Linked DNA regions of Homo sapiens: region 2 is linked to region 1. The links come from fine-mapping of genetic effects on gene expression. Tissue or cell type: whole blood. Region 1 holds a variant in brackets; the other region holds the start of a gene. All regions are shown on one strand. Distances are between the middles of the regions.

Region 1 (2,678 bases):
GTTTAGCTTCTAAGGCTCCTAAGAGCAAAATTCAGACTCCCTACAGGGGCCTCATGGACTCTCCATCATCTCCAGGCCATACTGGCATCCCTCCTGCTCCTTCAACACACAAAGCCTTTGTCCTGTCTCCCGCTTTTCACTCCTGCCCTTCCCTCAACTCTTTCTGGGCCTAGATCCTTCTCATCCTTCAGGTCTCAGCTCAGAGTCTTCCCCCCGAGGCCCTCCCTGACCACTCTCTCTGGAACAGTCTCCAGGGAGCACCTTGCTCAGAGGGTTCTGAAATCATCTTGTCCAGGTGTGTGGTCATGCGTTCAGGGTCTGTCTCCCTCCACTAGAATGGATGCCCCTCTTGTGGAGGCGCGGGGGTGGCACTTGGCCTACATCCCCAGCTCCCAGCATGACACTTGCTGTGTACGAGGCACATAACTGCCTGTTGGGCGATGAAAAGGAAGAGGAGGCTGATCTCAAAGGGTCCTTCCTGCAGGCAGAGAAGACTCTGGAATTTCTATGCACCTGCACTATGTGTTTGGAGTGGGGCTGGGTGGGCATGTGGAGAGTGTAGGGGAGTCATTTCCTCCTCCAGCCACCCTTGGCACCACTGCTCCTCCACCTCCCCACCTGTGCTCCTTTGTTCAGACAGTGCCCCCCACCAGAACCATGTCTCCCCTCTCTGTGACTGCCGAACTGCTCCTCATTCCTCAGGGCCCAGCTTGGACCTCACTTTCTCTAGGGCACCTTCTAGGACCCTCCCTAGGCTGGTTTAGGGCCCCTGCTTTGTCATCTCCAAGCCCCTGCCCTCCCCCATCTGGGCCCTGATCACACTGTGTGGTCGACAGCTGTTTACTTTTGTGGCTCTCCATTGGTTTTCAGCTCCTGAGAGTGGTATCTGTCTTGTTTACTCCTGTATCTCAGTAGCAAAGGGTTAATGAGCAGCTGCAGAGTAGACTTGGGAAGAATGCTGGATGAGGGTTCAAGGAAGGAGGGATCCTTGGCCTGACCCCTCCTTGCTGGTCACTGGGATGGAAAGTGTTGGGGGTGAAGGTCTCCTGGACACTGAACTTCTAGGCTGCCCCTTCCCATTCCAGGCTCTTGGGGACTTTCAGAAGGTTCTTGGACCGTCAAGGAGCTGCCATCCTGGTAGTGCTGCAGCTACCTGCCTGCCCCAGTACTGCACCAGGCTGCAGTCTCCGTTCCACACTGTGACCACACTCCATACACTATTTTGCCCCAATGCCCTTGGCAATGCACACCCTTGCCTGCCAGCCCCCTTGCTTGCTGCTCCACATGGACTTGCTGGCCATGGCATGTGGCTATTCCCCCTGTGCCAGGTTGGTGGTGTGTCTCCTTCCCATCTGCAGTTTCTCGGTACTCATGGCAGGAAAACACTGCCAGTTTCCAGAACCGCAGTGATTCAGCCTGTGGGTCACTAATATCACTCCCACCCTGGTGAGTCATGTGGTGGTTGTCTTGGCATCTGGAGTCCCAGGACAAACAACACCCTCCCCT[GTCC/G]TCCTTTCTGCCCCTTGCTTGCACCCTGGACCTTGGCATGAGTCAGGCGGGCATTCCCCAGGGAGATTCCGGCCTCTACCCCATGCCCTGGTGACTGAAGGCAACTCACCCATGCAATGGCCATTTTCCTGCTGGGAGAATCCTTGGCCACACTGTAAGGTGGGCAGAAGCAGAGACATGAGTGAGTTGAGAAGGTCCCATCCCAGGTTCCCTCCTAGTCACAGCCACAGAGTAGTTGTCACCCTAACCACAGTGTGAGGCATGCTCTGAGCTCTGGGCCTGGGGGGAGCCCCCTCCCTTGTAAGACCCTTCCTTTGCGCTGAGAACAGAAGGCTGGCGGGAAGGCCATGAATGGATACGGTTCAGACTCTTGCTCATTTCCCTGTGCAAAGGATCCACACGAGCTGGGACGTCTAACAGAACCTGTCCCTTCTGTAGCATCACCCTGTGACTGAGGCTGGGTCTGTCAGGGCAAAGTGTAATGAGGGCTGGGAGATGCTTTTTGAGGTGTCTGCTCACTGCCCACATTCACTTCTCCAAGAACCTCTCCCTCACACGGGTGGGTGCCTGCAGCCATGCTTGTGTCCCACCTCTCTGGCCAGGGCTGATGGGTGGACATCCTAGCAGGAGGGAAGACTCAAGGCTTTGCAGCAAGAATTTGAACAAATTGACTCAGAGACTTAAGAGTTGGGAGCCGGCCCTGCCAGGCTGTGGAGGCTCTACCATGCCCATATGGGGGTCTCAGAGACAGCAGCCTGGGGTGGGGCAGGGGACTAAAAACGTAACACACATGACACAAAATGTCAATCAACCGTACTGATGAATGAGGTGGGTGGATGGGGATTGTTGGGGAAGAGGGGCCCCTCTCCTCCCAAAGCCAGTGCACTGACAAAGGTCCTTGAGCTCCTAGGGCTGAGGCCATCAAGCTGCCAGTTTCTACTCATCCTGAGCTTCCCTGAGTTTTATGAGTGATCCTCCTTATAAGCCCCCTTCATTTGTGTCAGTTTCAGTGGGTTCCTGTTAATCGCCACCAAGTGAACCCCATCAGAGTTGGAACGACACTGCTGAGATGGGTCCAGAGCTGCTCCTCAAAGAGCCTCCAGAAAACCTGGTGCAGGCTCTGAGCCCCACCCTAGGGCAATAGGAGGTCTTGTCAGAGACTCAGAAAG
Region 2 (2,678 bases), 170 kb before region 1:
CTCCTATGAGCCAGGCACAGGCAAAGATGGATAAGACATGATATCCAATAGTTATGATGTAGCCGACTCAACACTGCTGCAGAGGGATGGTCCAACTGGGGGCCTAGAAGAGCAGCCTCAGAGGCTGGACCAAAAGGAAGCAGCATTTAAACTGAGCCTTGAAGGATAAATAGGAGTTTTGCTGTCAAGTGGGGTGTGGGAATGAGGGCATTCTGAGCTTACTTGGGAAATTTGGAAAGGATTAGTGGGTTGTATGCTGGGTGACAGCATGGGACAGGGAAGGAAGTGGCAAGCCAGGAAGTTGGAAATTGGTTGGGGACAAATTGTGAAATAGGCCACACAGAAGAGACAGCTTCTGTCCTGTCTCAGTAGGGGAAGCAGTGTAACAAACATCAGGTCTGTCTTTTAGAAAGATGTCATGACCTGGCTTGGTGGTTCACGCCTGTAATCCCAGCACTTTGGGAGCCAAGGGGGACAGATCACTTGAGGTCAGGAGCTCGAGACCAGCCTGGCCAACATGGCAAAGCCCTGTCTCTACTAAAAAAAATACAAAAATTAGCTGGGTGTGGTGGCACTCGCGACTGTAGTCCCAGCTACTTGGGAGACCGAGGCAGGAGAATCACTTGAGGCCGGGAGGCGGAGGTTGCAGTGAGCAGAGATTGCTCCACTGCCCTCCAACCTGGACGACAGAACAGTACTCTACCCCACCGCCCCCCACCCCCCCCCCCACAAAAAAAAGGAAAAAGAAAAAAGAAAGATGCCATGGGCACAAAGGTTGAGCATGAAGGAGAGAAGAGAGACTGGTGGTAGTTACCAGCTTCCTGGTCTGAACCCAGGTAGGCTTCATTCCTCCTCAGCAAAATGAGGGGAGTTGCGTGTATCTCTGTGGTTGTTTTGAGGGTTAAATGAGAACTCAGGTAAAGCGGTGGCACGGAATAATAATAATGTAAAGCATCGTTAGCCTCCATCACAGGCAGTTCGGCCTAGTAGTTAAGTCCGTGGGCTTTGCTTCCTCTTGGCCCTGGGTTTGTGTCCCAGCCATGTTAGGTAGCGTATTTTGAATGTGGGCAAGACAGAAGGATGGCAAGGAAGGGTTGGATAAAAGAGGGTGTGGACAATAAGCTTGTGCCGAGTGGAACGAGTGGCGGTGCCTCTGGTGGGTGATGGACTCTTACTCCGACATGGGTAACTCGGACAGCTTTGGACAGGACGAGGCGGGCCCTGGCAGGAGACTGCGGATGTCCAGGTGACAGTGGATGCCAGTTCAAAACCAGCACTGCTCTCCTCCCGCGCCCAGGAAGAGCCCAGAGGCCCGGGGTGGGCGCTATGGCAGGAAAGAGGGAAAAGGAGGAGGCAGGGCGGGCAGGGGCGGCCCCAGATGTGGCAAACTTGGCGCAGCAGCGCACGGGCGGACAGGGCGGAAGGCCCGCGTCGGGCTGGGAGATGCGCCCTGCCCTGGCCCGAGGACGAAGGAATCCGAGCTGGGGGCCTGGCGCAGAGGGGAAAGGGGGGCGCCAGGGTGGTGAGCGAGATGGAAAGAGAGATGGCAGGAAGCCGGGAGGAGCGCGCGGGGGAGGAGACAGCCGAGGGGAAGGGGAAGGGAAAGGGGCGGGTGGGAAGGGTGGAGAGCTGGAGACAGAAGGCGAGGAGGGCCGAGGGGAGGAGAGAGGAGAGGAAGGGTGGGGAAAGGAGGAGAGGAAGAGAGGACTAAGAGGGGAGCAAGGCGAGGAGGCCGCGGCGGGCGCAGCGGGCACCTGGGCCGTGCTGCCCCCGCGAGCAAGGCGCCGCCATTCCGCTGCTCGGGGCGCCGCCGCCGCCGCCACCGCGCCCAGGGGCCATGCTCCCGCCGCCCCCGCGCCAGCCGCCGCCCCAGGCGCGTGCGGCCCGCGGCGCGGTGCGCCTGCAGCGGCCCTTCCTGCGCAGCCCGCTGGGCGTGTTGCGGCTGCTGCAGCTGCTGGCCGGCGCTGCCTTCTGGATCACTATCGCCACCAGCAAGTACCAGGGCCCCGTGCACTTCGCGCTCTTCGTGTCCGTGCTCTTCTGGCTGCTCACCCTGGGCCTCTACTTCCTCACGCTGCTGGGCAAGCACGAGCTGGTCCCCGTGCTGGGCTCGCGCTGGCTCATGGTCAACGTGGCGCACGATGTGCTGGCGGCCGCGCTCTACGGCGCCGCCACCGGCATCATGAGCGACCAGATGCAGCGCCACAGCTACTGCAACCTCAAGGATTACCCGCTCCCCTGCGCCTACCACGCCTTCCTGGCGGCCGCCGTCTGCGGCGGCGTCTGCCACGGCCTCTACCTGCTTTCGGCGCTCTATGGCTGCGGGCGTCGCTGCCAGGGCAAGCAGGAGGTGGCGTGAGGCCGCCCGCGCCCGCCGCGGCCCCGATCGGGGCGGGGGAATCCCCGGAGACCAGCCTCCTTAATCCCTTCCCCCGCCGCCGCCCCGCGCGGGTGCGCCCTGGCACCCTCTCCCTGCCCTCCAGCGTTTCCACTGTCGCCCGCGCCCGGGAACCCTGACGCTCAGCTCCCGCCCGACGGCAGCGCCGCCGCCGCCCAGAATCCCAGCCCAGAATCCCGACCGCCGCGCCGGACGCGCCGTCTCCCGGGACAAGCGCAGGCTGCGATCCGAGGGGCTGACACACACTCGCAGACGAGCCGCCCCGAGGCGAAACCTCGCG

Evidence for each region. PIP is the estimated chance that this variant, and not a neighbour inherited with it, causes the effect.
Region 2: MARVELD1 starts here. The variant in region 1 is fine-mapped to the expression of MARVELD1 in whole blood (TOPMed, PIP 0.93).

What each region holds. Positions count from the first base shown.
Region 1 is chr10:97,881,168-97,883,845 of GRCh38, forward strand. CRTAC1 (cartilage acidic protein 1) reads right to left here. Exons shown (of 15, transcript NM_018058.7): 13 at 1,619-1,661. Among named protein-coding and RNA genes, the nearest start is that of MIR3085, 6.6 kb to the left of the region's middle. RefSeq lists an enhancer at 837-2,036 and a silencer at 1,325-1,619. The variant GTCC/G (reference allele first, on the strand shown) is at 1,507.
Region 2 is chr10:97,712,040-97,714,717 of GRCh38, forward strand. It overlaps MARVELD1 (MARVEL domain containing 1), which reads left to right and starts at 1,691. Exons shown (of 2, transcript NM_031484.4): 1 at 1,691-2,678. The coding sequence starts at 1,838. The coding sequence ends at 2,359. RefSeq lists an enhancer at 2,003-2,052 and a silencer at 2,363-2,582.